Linked DNA regions of Homo sapiens. The protein of the gene in region 1 purifies or fractionates together with the protein of each later gene. This does not show direct contact. Each region holds a gene or a part of one and is shown in the gene's direction. Other genes may lie near its edges.

Region 1 (3,756 bases):
TGCTAAACCAAAGAAACAGTAAGCTGCTTAAAACCTGGAGGAGAAACTGGGTGGACGTATTGTAACGCAGTATAGTGTACACAAAACCATACTTTAATATAGAGATTTTTTTAAAGGGTAATTTTGACTACACACAATTTTCATCTTTGCTGATTTTAATATAAGCCTTTTGTAAGATGCAACCCAAGGGTAATTTCAAATAGCAGACTGCCCTGTTGACCAGAATTTGTTAGATTGCTATTACAATGCTGATTATATTTTATAGCAATTACTGACATAAGGTTATACTTTGGGCAATGGCTCATGCCTGTAATCCCAGCACTGAGGCCAAGGTGGGAGGATCACTTGAGGTCAGGAGATCAGGACATAGTGAGACCTCCATCTCTACAAAAAATTTAAAAATCGAAACATATCGCTTGAGCCCCAGGAGTTCAAGGCTGTAGTAATCTATGATCATGCCACTGCACTCCAGCCTGGACAACAGGACAAGACCTATCTCTTAAAAAAATAAAAGTTATATTTCATCCTACACGCTATAATTTCTGCTGTATAATTTTGGCAGCCCCCGTTCTGATTTTACATGAGGTGTTAACCATTATACAGAAAGTCTTATTGCCGTATAAACATACCAGAATTTGTACAATTAAATGAGCTGTATCCTCTCTTCCACAATCTATAGGAAAAAAGTAATCCTCTTGGAAAGCTGGAAACATAGTCCGGTAAGATTCCCATTGCTCAAAAAATTTTTGGCATTGAATTTTTGTAATTACCTTCAGAATTCGCAGCACATTTTTTGAAGATTTTTAATGGTAGTTAATTCTCATCTTCTTAAGTTGGATTTCATTTCTGCAAGCTGCTAACAGGTCCTTATAACCGAGACAAGTGAATGAAGTGGGTGTTAAAGTCACTGTTTGGGATAAAAAATGAAGTGTGATTATTTTCATATTTTTAGATTTTTTATAGTGTGTGGTTTATAGAAAGACTCCAGGAATATTCTGTGCTGTGGTGGAAATATTGGAATAATCAGCCTCATAAGGTGATTTCTTTGGTGGGGATAGCTGTCAGTTCAATATATACCTCTAACATGTAGTTTGAGGTCGGTCTCATTACATTGTCATATTTCTATTCCCTAACAACCACAGAACTACATATGTTATTTTTTCTAGTTATCTTACGTGTCACTAATTGTTCTTTTAATATATACTTGTGATAATTTTAATGGAATTCATTCTTTTCTAAATGATAAACTGACAGCTTTTGTTTTCCTTCCCAATACTATGCTCTGCTTTGCCGTGGAACTTACTTGTTTTATTCACTTAACTACATTATTGGATTGTTAGTTAAGTTTTCTATTGGTTATATTGTGTATTTAACTTTGAGGGGAAAGCCACTCCCATTTTACTAAGGTATAAAGAGGCTACAATCTTAGTGGATATATTATCTCTCAATTTTTCACTGCTGTCTTCTTTATGTCATTTGTTACTTTATAACTTTCTTCGTGTAAATTGATCTTTTATACTTTATATCATTTCTCTATTCAGAATCCTTTGCCTACAGGGTGAGTCATCCTGGTAATCCCATTCAGTTTTCTATTCTTTTCTCCTTTTTTCCAGCATAAAACTCTTTTTTATACATTTTAAGCCATGCTTATTTACTGAACATACCATCTTCTTTCTTAAAGCCAGAGTTTGCCCTTACCATATTACTTGCCTGACATCCCTTTTTCTTTCGTTCTTTCTGTTCAAATACAATGAATCCTTCAGAATGCTATTAGATCACATCTGTTCAAGATAAAGTGAAGCACTTGCCTTACTGATCTCCCTGCATCTTTCCACTTCTCTTGCAGTTATTTATGTTATTCATTTGATACTAAATATTACCTTGAAATTTTCTTAATTATTATATGTTTTAGATATTTTAGTTCTACATATAGATAATAATCTTCTGAAGGACAGCACCATGATTTTTCTATGTATCCCTTGCAGCACAACATACAACGTAATTCAGAGTAGATGTTCATATAATTATTTCATGGGCATTCAGTAAATTATTTGTTAAATTAATGTTCTACCATCTTCACTCAGATATTTCATGTGATTTTGTGTTTGTGGACCATTAAATAAAGCCAAATAAATATAATTTATACCATAAATGCATTCATTGCTCTAATCTGGTTATCACTGTTATATTCCTAACAACTTTATTTTATAGAAGCTTAAGTGAAAATGATACATGTTAGAAGACATGAAACAAGGAGAAATTCTAAGAGTCACGTGCCTGAGCAGAAATCTCGAGTTGATTGGAGGCGAACTAAAAGAAGTAGTATCTCACAATTACTTGATAGTGATGAAGAGCTTGATAGTGAAGAATTTGATAGTGATGAAGAGCTTGATAGTGATGAAAGTTTTGAAAATGATGAAGAGCTTGATAGTAACAAGGGACCTGATTGTAATAAAACACCAGGAAGTGAAAGAGAGCTCAACTTAAGTAAAATTCAAAGTGAAGGAAATGACAGTAAGTGTCTCATTAACTCTGGCAACGGTTCAACATATGAAGAAGAAACGAACAAAATCAAACATAGGAATATTGACTTACAAGATCAGGAAAAACATTTAAGTCAAGAGGATAATGATCTCAACAAACAAACTGGACAAATAATAGAGGATGATCAGGAAAAACATTTAAGTCAAGAGGATAATGATCTCAACAAACAAACTGGACAAATAATAGAGGATGATTTAGAAGAAGAAGACATCAAGCGAGGAAAAAGAAAAAGGCTATCCTCTGTGATGTGTGACAGTGATGAGAGTGATGACAGCGATATCCTAGTTAGAAAAGTAGGTGTTAAACGTCCCCGTAGAGTGGTTGAAGATGAAGGTTCTTCAGTGGAAATGGAGCAAAAGACTCCTGAAAAAACATTAGCTGCACAAAAGCGAGAAAAACTTCAGAAGCTCAAAGAACTCTCAAAACAAAGATCTCGTCAGAGACGCAGTAGTGGTAGAGATTTTGAGGTGTGTTATATTTTGTTGGATTTGTTATTGTTTTTCAGTTTTTTTCTTAAAGTATTTAATTTTTATAAAAAAGTGCTGAGTCCGTTCCATTTCTCAATAATTCTAGAATTTATTTTTTAATCAAGTATTCTTGAACATGTTTGATTACACTATTGTACGTAATATACTGTTTTATCATGAGCCTCAGTCCATCCTTTTTTAAAATTGAAAGACTATTTGTTATTTTATATGATCTTTCTTGTTTTTAACTTCTTATAATTCTAATGTCCATTTTAAACATTTTACATCACTTAACCAAGGTATATTCTTCTTAATAATTTCAAAAGTTCAGCATTTAATATGACAAAATTATTTATTTTTAACTTTAAAATATGAAGTTAATTACTATGGATCATTTTTTTGCTGTCAGATTTAATGTTTTAATTTTATATCGATGCTTACCGTTTTAATAGCACCATTTACTGAAGCATTTATTTTAATTTAATTAGGACTCTGAAAAGGAATCTTGCCCAAGCAGTGATGAAGTTGATGAGGAGGAAGAAGAGGATAATTATGAATCTGATGAAGATGGAGATGATTATATTATCGATGACTTTGTAGTGCAAGATGAGGAGGGTGATGAAGAGAATAAAAACCAACAAGGAGAAAAATTGACTACATCACAACTGAAATTAGTAAAACAGAATTCTCTTTGTAAGTTCAATATTAAGAAAATGTTTCATGAATTGTTCTCATGATATTTTAT
Region 2 (3,756 bases), on another chromosome or scaffold:
CGTTTCGTCCTCCCCCAGCCACTGGCAACCAGCATTATACTCTTTGATTCTATGAGTTTGACTACTTTAGCTACCTTATATAAGTGGTATTATGTACTGTTTATCTTTTTATGACTGACTTATTTCCCTTAGCATAGTGCATTCAAAGTCCAACCATGTTGTTGCCTATTGCAGAATTTCCTTCTTTTCAAGGCTGAATAATATTCCAGTGCATGTGTGTACCACATTTTCTTTATCCATTAATTTGTTGATTGATAGACATTTAGGTTGGTTTTCTACATCTTGACTATCATGAATAGTGTTGCAATGAACACAGGAGAGCTACTATCTCTTAGAGATGATATCATGGTTTTTATCATCAGAAAACACCCACTGATTTCTATGCTAATTTTGTTACCTGGGTGGAATAATAGTACAGCTATATATTCCTCATTTTAGATATCTTTGTATTTCTACATACAATAAAAAAGCAGAGTACTTAGTCATGTTGAAGAACTTTAAACTTTTAGTATTTCCAGATCAATCTTCAAAACAAGGACAGGTTTATCTTTCTCTCACCACTCAATCTATATATACCTCTTGTGGGCAAGGCCAGTTTTTATCACTGGAGCCTTTCCCCTTTTTATTATGTACCTCTCCCTCACAGCAGAGTCAGGACTTTAACTTTACACAATACTATGGCTCTACATATGAAATCTTAAAAATACATAAAAATTAATAAATTCTGTCTAGAGTAGTATATTTTCCCTGGGGTTACAGTTACTTTCATAATAAAAATTAGAGATAAGGAAAGGACTCATTTATTGGAAAGTGATTTTAGGTAACATTTCTGGAAGAAAAATGTCTATATCTTAATAGTCACTTAATATATGATGGATTGTGTTACTCCTCAGTTTTCAATGGCATATACTAAAACATGGCCCTCTAAAAAGGGGGCAAATGAAATGAGAAACTCTCTGAATGTTTTTCTCCCCTAGGTGAATTCACCTGCTGCTTAGAAGCTTATTTTCTCTTGATTTCTGTTATAATGATTGCTCTTACCCTTTAGTTTTAAGTTTCAAAATAGGAGTCATATAACTTTCCTTAAAGCTATTGACTGTCTTTTTGTCCTGTTTTATTCACCATGAGTTATAGTGTGACAGTTAATTCTTATGAAAATTATATAGAGATGGTTAAATCATCAGAAACTGTAAACCTCGATTGGGAGGGGAAGCGGATTTTTAAATGATTTCCTGACCAAGCTTAACCAGTATATTAAATCCTTTGTACTGTTCTTTGGCTATAAAGAAAAAAGGTACTGTCCAGCAACTGAAACCTGCTTTCTTCCATTTAGCATACCCTTTTTGGAGACAAATTATGCACAGTTGCAACTCTTCGTGAAACCTATGGTGAAATGGCTGACTGCTGTGCAAAACAAGAACCTGAGAGAAATGAATGCTTCTTGCAACACAAAGATGACAACCCAAACCTCCCCCGATTGGTGAGACCAGAGGTTGATGTGATGTGCACTGCTTTTCATGACAATGAAGAGACATTTTTGAAAAAGTAAGTAATCAGATGTTTATAGTTCAAAATTAAAAAGCATGGAGTAACTCCATAGGCCAACACTCTATAAAAATTACCATAACAAAAATATTTTCAACATTAAGACTTGGAAGTTTTGTTATGATGATTTTTTAAAGAAGTAGTATTTGATACCACAAAATTCTACACAGCAAAAAATATGATCAAAGATATTTTGAAGTTTATTGAAACAGGATACAATCTTTCTGAAAAATTTAAGATAGACAAATTATTTAATGTATTACGAAGATATGTATATATGGTTGTTATAATTGATTTCGTTTTAGTCAGCAACATTATATTGCCAAAATTTAACCATTTATGCACACACACACACACACACACACACTTAACCCTTTTTTCCACATACTTAAAGAATGACAGAGACAAGACCATCATGTGCAAATTGAGCTTAATTGGTTAATTAGATATCTTTGGAATTTGGAGGTTCTGGGGAGAATGTCGATTACAATTATTTCTGTAATATTGTCTGCTATAGAAAAGTGACTGTTTTTCTTTTTCAAAATTTAGATACTTATATGAAATTGCCAGAAGACATCCTTACTTTTATGCCCCGGAACTCCTTTTCTTTGCTAAAAGGTATAAAGCTGCTTTTACAGAATGTTGCCAAGCTGCTGATAAAGCTGCCTGCCTGTTGCCAAAGGTATTATGCAAAAGAATAGAAAAAAAGAGTTCATTATCCAACCTGATTTTGTCCATTTTGTGGCTAGATTTAGGGAACCTGAGTGTCTGATACAAACTTTCCGACATGGTCAAAAAAGCCTTCCTTTTATCTGTCTTGAAAATCTTTCATCTTTGAAGGCCTACACTCTCGTTTCTTCTTTTAAGATTTGCCAATGATGATCTGTCAGAGGTAATCACTGTGCATGTGTTTAAAGATTTCACCACTTTTTATGGTGGTGATCACTATAGTGAAATACTGAAACTTGTTTGTCAAATTGCACAGCAAGGGGCCACAGTTCTTGTTTATCTTTTCATGATAATTTTTAGTAGGGAGGGAATTCAAAGTAGAGAATTTTACTGCATCTAGATGCCTGAGTTCATGCATTCATTCCATAAATATATATTATGGAATGCTTTATTTTCTTTTCTGAGGAGTTTACTGATGTTGGTGGAGGAGAGACTGAAATGAATTATACACAAAATTTAAAAATTAGCAAAATTGCAGCCCCTGGGATATTAGCGTACTCTTTCTCTGACTTTTCTCCCACTTTTAAGGCTCTTTTTCCTGGCAATGTTTCCAGTTGGTTTCTAACTACATAGGGAATTCCGCTGTGACCAGAATGATCGAATGATCTTTCCTTTTCTTAGAGAGCAAAATCATTATTCGCTAAAGGGAGTACTTGGGAATTTAGGCATAAATTATGCCTTCAAAATTTAATTTGGCACAGTCTCATCTGAGCTTATGGAGGGGTGTTTCATGTAGAATTTTTCTTCTAATTTTCATCAAATTATTCCTTTTTGTAGCTCGATGAACTTCGGGATGAAGGGAAGGCTTCGTCTGCCAAACAGAGACTCAAGTGTGCCAGTCTCCAAAAATTTGGAGAAAGAGCTTTCAAAGCATGGTAAATACTTTTAAACATAGTTGGCATCTTTATAACGATGTAAATGATAATGCTTCAGTGACAAATTGTACATTTTTATGTATTTTGCAAAGTGCTGTCAAATACATTTCTTTGGTTGTCTAACAGGTAGAACTCTAATAGAGGTAAAAATCAGAATATCAATGACAATTTGACATTATTTTTAATCTTTTCTTTTCTAAATAGTTGAATAATTTAGAGGACGCTGTCCTTTTTGTCCTAAAAAAAGGGACAGATATTTAAGTTCTATTTATTTATAAAATCTTGGACTCTTATTCTAATGGTTCATTATTTTTATAGAGCTGTAGGCATGGTTCTTTATTTAATTTTTTAAAGTTATTTTTAATTTTTGTGGATACAGAGTAGGTATACATATTTACGGGGTATATGAGATATTTTGATATAAGTATACAACATATATAATCCCTTTATTTAATTTTATCTTCCCCCCAATGATCTAAAACTATTTGCTTGTCCTTTTATGTCTTATAGTTAAATTCAGTCACCAACTAAGTTGAAGTTACTTCTTATTTTTGCATAGCTCCAGCTCTGATCTTCATCTCATGTTTTTGCCTGAGCCTCTGTTTTC
Region 3 (3,756 bases), on another chromosome or scaffold:
CTCAGGGAACTCTCCCTCAGTTGAGGGACTGAGACATGTAAACAGTGTCTTAAAACACAAGGAGGAGGAACATGTGCTTTAGAGTCTTAGTGTTTGAGGACTTCAGGATAGAAACTGACTTAAGTGCATGAGGGAGTCGGGGAAAGACTCAGAAGGGGTGGCAATGGAGGTGGAGCCTTGAGCTGGACCTTGAAGAAGGTCATCAGGTGGGAAGGAAGGAGAATCCTTGGCAGAGACAGTGGAGAGAGTTGGAGAATGAAAGTGCATGGGGGGAACAGTAGGAATAAGGATGACTGCAGAGTGGTGTGTTGCAGGGTGCCAGTGAAGCTGAAGCCCTACTTCAAGAGAAACCTGTGTGCATGTGCACAGGGAGATGTACCCACAAATGTTCGTAGAAGACTGTAATAGCAAAAAACAACTGGAGATAACCCAGATCTCCATAAATGGGAGAATGGACAATTCAGCTTTGGTATTGCAGCAATGAAAATGAAGGAGCTGCAGGTCTGTGCATCAACACAGATGAATCTCAGAAATATAACATTAAGGGGAAAAAGAAAAACCAAGTCATAAAAGAATACACAGACTTATTCTTCTGTATGAAGTTCAAAAACAAAGTAAACAGCAAATGATCTGTGGGTACTGTTGTATATAGTTATACTGTTTAAAAAGGTGGGGAAGAAGCACAGAATTGGGGATAATAGTTTCCTCCAGCAGTGGATTGAATTGAGGAAGGTCCCCCAGGACTTCAAAGGTCCTAGTTATGTTCTTTTTCTTAAACCAGGCAATGAATTCAGGGTGTAAACCTATAATCTTACCCTGGTCATAAATATTTAGTATTTTATAAAGATAGTTTTAAAAATTTTTGAAAAGCAGATGATATGGAGCTGAGGCTGGAATAATTAATTGGGGCCAAGCAGTGAAGGGCCTGAACACCAAGTTGAGCAGCTTGGATTTCACCATGTTCCCTCTGCTTCCTCTCCTTGAAGGCTGGAGCAGAGCTGCATGTGTTAGATGAGGGAGGATACTCACAGGCTCAGCCCAAACCAGAAATGAGGAATAGCAGGCTCTTCTCCCCTTTTCTCATAGCCCAGAAGCTATACCTTTTCTTTACCAGATATTTGTTTATTAGTATTTATTTACTTATTGTCCTGCTTTAAGTTTATAGTGTGTTCCGTACTTTCTTACATACTCTCAGATTTGACCCTGAAAATAGCCATCTGTGGAATTAGTATTGCCCTATTTTATTGGTGAGGAAATTGAGGTCCAAAAGTTAGGTAGGTCACACAAGATCTTCCAGCTACCAAGAGGCAGTGCCAAGGCTAGAACCTGGGTTGCTTTTTATCATTTATATATTTTTATGTGCATGCAAAAATGTTTTTATATCAGGATTCCCCAACTTCTTGATGAAAAACTGTTGAATTGCCCAGAAGCTATTAATTGGGGGAAGTCATTAATCAGGAAGGATGATTTACAGCAGGGGAGGAAATCTCTGGGAGAGAGGATTGTAGTCAGTTTGGAAGGGACGATGCTGAAGAGACCTCACTGATCTCAGTTGGGTGCTGCTCCATGGTTTTTTTCCTCTTCTGAATTTGTATCTAGTGCCTTCTGCTGGGGATGTGGAGAAAGCCAGAGTTCTGAAGGAAGAAGGCAATGAGCTTGTAAAGAAGGGAAACCATAAGAAAGCTATTGAGAAGTACAGTGAAAGCCTCTTGTGTAGTAACCTGGAATCTGCCACGTACAGCAACAGGTATCTCCTATACAGCTGCTGGCCTGGGGCATTTCAGGACATTTGTTCCATAGTCTTCTCTTGGACTGCAATGGGCCCTTCATCCCTAGCATTTAGTCAAGTATGTTATGGCTGAAAACATGCATCCACGTTGTGAGCTAGCCATGACCAGTGGCATTCATTCTCTCAAAAGGGTAGAAACTGAGGGATGCCAAATGGTAGCCTGGGCTTTGTTGGCCCCTGTCCCCAGAATTTTCATAAGCATGCAATGTAACTAAAAGCAGTGTGCCTGCTCTGCAAACACAACCCTAACACAAGTCTCTTAGCCTGTCCACCCCACCACGCTACGCTGCTCCCTACCCTTCTCCAAGACCCTCCTGTTAGAAATTCTGGCACCATTTCTGTCTGAGAGTACTGGCCCAGAAGCCAAAATGTGAAGTAACCATTGCCTGGCATGAGAGCAGGAAGGATGGGTACAGTCTAGCCTGAAAGGTTAGACTTGTGGGCCTGTAGAAAGTCCTGCACCAGGAGCTGCCGTCAGTGACCACTGACTGAGAACCTGGGAGCCAGGGTGCGGTCCCTTCACTGTGTAGGAGTGATTGTTCTCCAACAATGCTCGTATAGGTGGTCTTTCTGTTTTAGTGTTTAGAAAATTGAGGCTCAGAGAAGGAAGGGTTTTGCTTTAAACTCAGCCAGCCAGTAAATGTTGGCACAAGAATTGGAATCTGACTTCAACAAGATCTTCCTGTTACTTTTACTCTCAGAAGCTTGAAACATTCAGCAAGAGACCATATCAAAACCAAATGCTTAGTATAAAACATTATAAAATGTTAGAAATCTGTTTATCCTTCCCTACCAGCATACACATATCACTCTCTAGTTCAAAAATCTTGGATCTAATATAGACACATTGTTCCTTATTCCAAACTCTTGAGATAAAATGTGTTTTCCAGCCACGGTGGCTCAATGCCTGTAATCCCAACACTTTGGGAGGCTGAGGCTCCGGGAGGATCACTTGAGGTCAGGAGTTTGAGACCAGCCTGGCCAACACGGCAAAACCCCATCTCTACTAAAAATACAAAAAATCAGCTGGGCGCTGTGGCACATGCCTGTGATCTCAGCTACTCAGGAGGCTGAGGCAGGAGAATCACTTGAACCCAGGAGGCAGAGGTTACAGTGAGCCAAGATTGTGCCACTGCACTCCAGCCTGGGTGACAGAGCGAGACTCTGTCACAAAAAAAAAAGAAGTGTTTTCCATTTTAGTGAGGTAATATGGTCTGAATTATGTAACACCCCAGCAGTGTCTGGGGCAGCTTGCAGAAGTTAATTATTAGTATTTCTGCCAGTGAAACTTGAAAATTCCATGTTCACATGGGGTGGAATAGAGAAACTAAATAGCTTCATGTCAGTTCAGATCAGGTTTTGCTGCCCAATGAGTTGGAAAGAGAACTTGTAGTTTTAAAGCTTATATTTTGGAATTTTGCACCTGTGGTTTTATGTGGTTTTATTGCTGATTGGACCAGAGGGGCCACAATTTGCCAGGCTAATTTGAAAAAGAAGCCTGCAGCCTATTTGTTCCATATTTGTGTGGCATCTTCTAACTCCTCTATCTCTGGACCCTCTTTCACATTGCTTACCTTATGCTGCTGGACACCTCCATTAACTCATTTTTCTGGATCATTACCATATTTGGAGCTGTGTTTTGTCTTGTTTAGATACTGTTCTTCATGCAGGTGTCTGTGCCACACTGTTTTAATTGCTTTTGCTTTATAATATCTTATAGGGCTGGTCTTTTCTTCATTCTTCTTAATCAGAGCATTCCTAGTATTTTCCCATGTTTGTTCTTCTAGCTAAAGCTTCGGATCATTTTGGCAAATTCCAAAAAATGTCTTGTTGGACAGCTTTTGGTTGTGATTGCATTGGATTTATAATTTAATCTAGAGGACTAATGACAAAACAACTTTCAGCCATTGTGGCTAACATTTTATCATGTCCTGGAACGTCTTGGACATAGTCTAATGCTCCACCTC

The links.
Region 2: the proteins of CCDC82 (region 1) and ALB purify together in Homo sapiens (affinity purification with mass spectrometry; 2 studies listed by BioGRID and IntAct, with this or other methods). This does not show direct contact.
Region 3: the proteins of CCDC82 (region 1) and TOMM34 purify together in Homo sapiens (affinity purification with mass spectrometry; 2 studies listed by BioGRID and IntAct, with this or other methods). This does not show direct contact.

What each region holds. Positions count from the first base shown.
Region 1 is NC_000011.10:96,383,217-96,386,972, reverse strand, and holds part of CCDC82 (coiled-coil domain-containing protein 82), read left to right. Parts: exon of another isoform or gene 1-679; 5' UTR 680-719; exon of another isoform or gene 720-1,036; intron 1,037-2,211; 5' UTR 2,212-2,225; coding exon 2,226-3,011; intron 3,012-3,499; coding exon 3,500-3,704; coding exon of another isoform or gene 3,705-3,748; exon of another isoform or gene 3,749-3,756.
Region 2 is NC_000004.12:73,407,261-73,411,016, forward strand, and holds part of ALB (albumin preproprotein), read left to right. Parts: intron 1-1,333; coding exon 1,334-1,545; intron 1,546-2,094; coding exon 2,095-2,227; intron 2,228-3,051; coding exon 3,052-3,149; intron 3,150-3,756. UniProt on the Homo sapiens protein: Binds water, Ca(2+), Na(+), K(+), fatty acids, hormones, bilirubin and drugs. Its main function is the regulation of the colloidal osmotic pressure of blood. Major zinc transporter in plasma, typically binds about 80% of all plasma zinc.
Region 3 is NC_000020.11:44,946,721-44,950,476, reverse strand, and holds part of TOMM34 (mitochondrial import receptor subunit TOM34), read left to right. Parts: intron 1-1,599; coding exon 1,600-1,747; intron 1,748-3,756. UniProt on the Homo sapiens protein: Plays a role in the import of cytosolically synthesized preproteins into mitochondria. Binds the mature portion of precursor proteins. Interacts with cellular components, and possesses weak ATPase activity.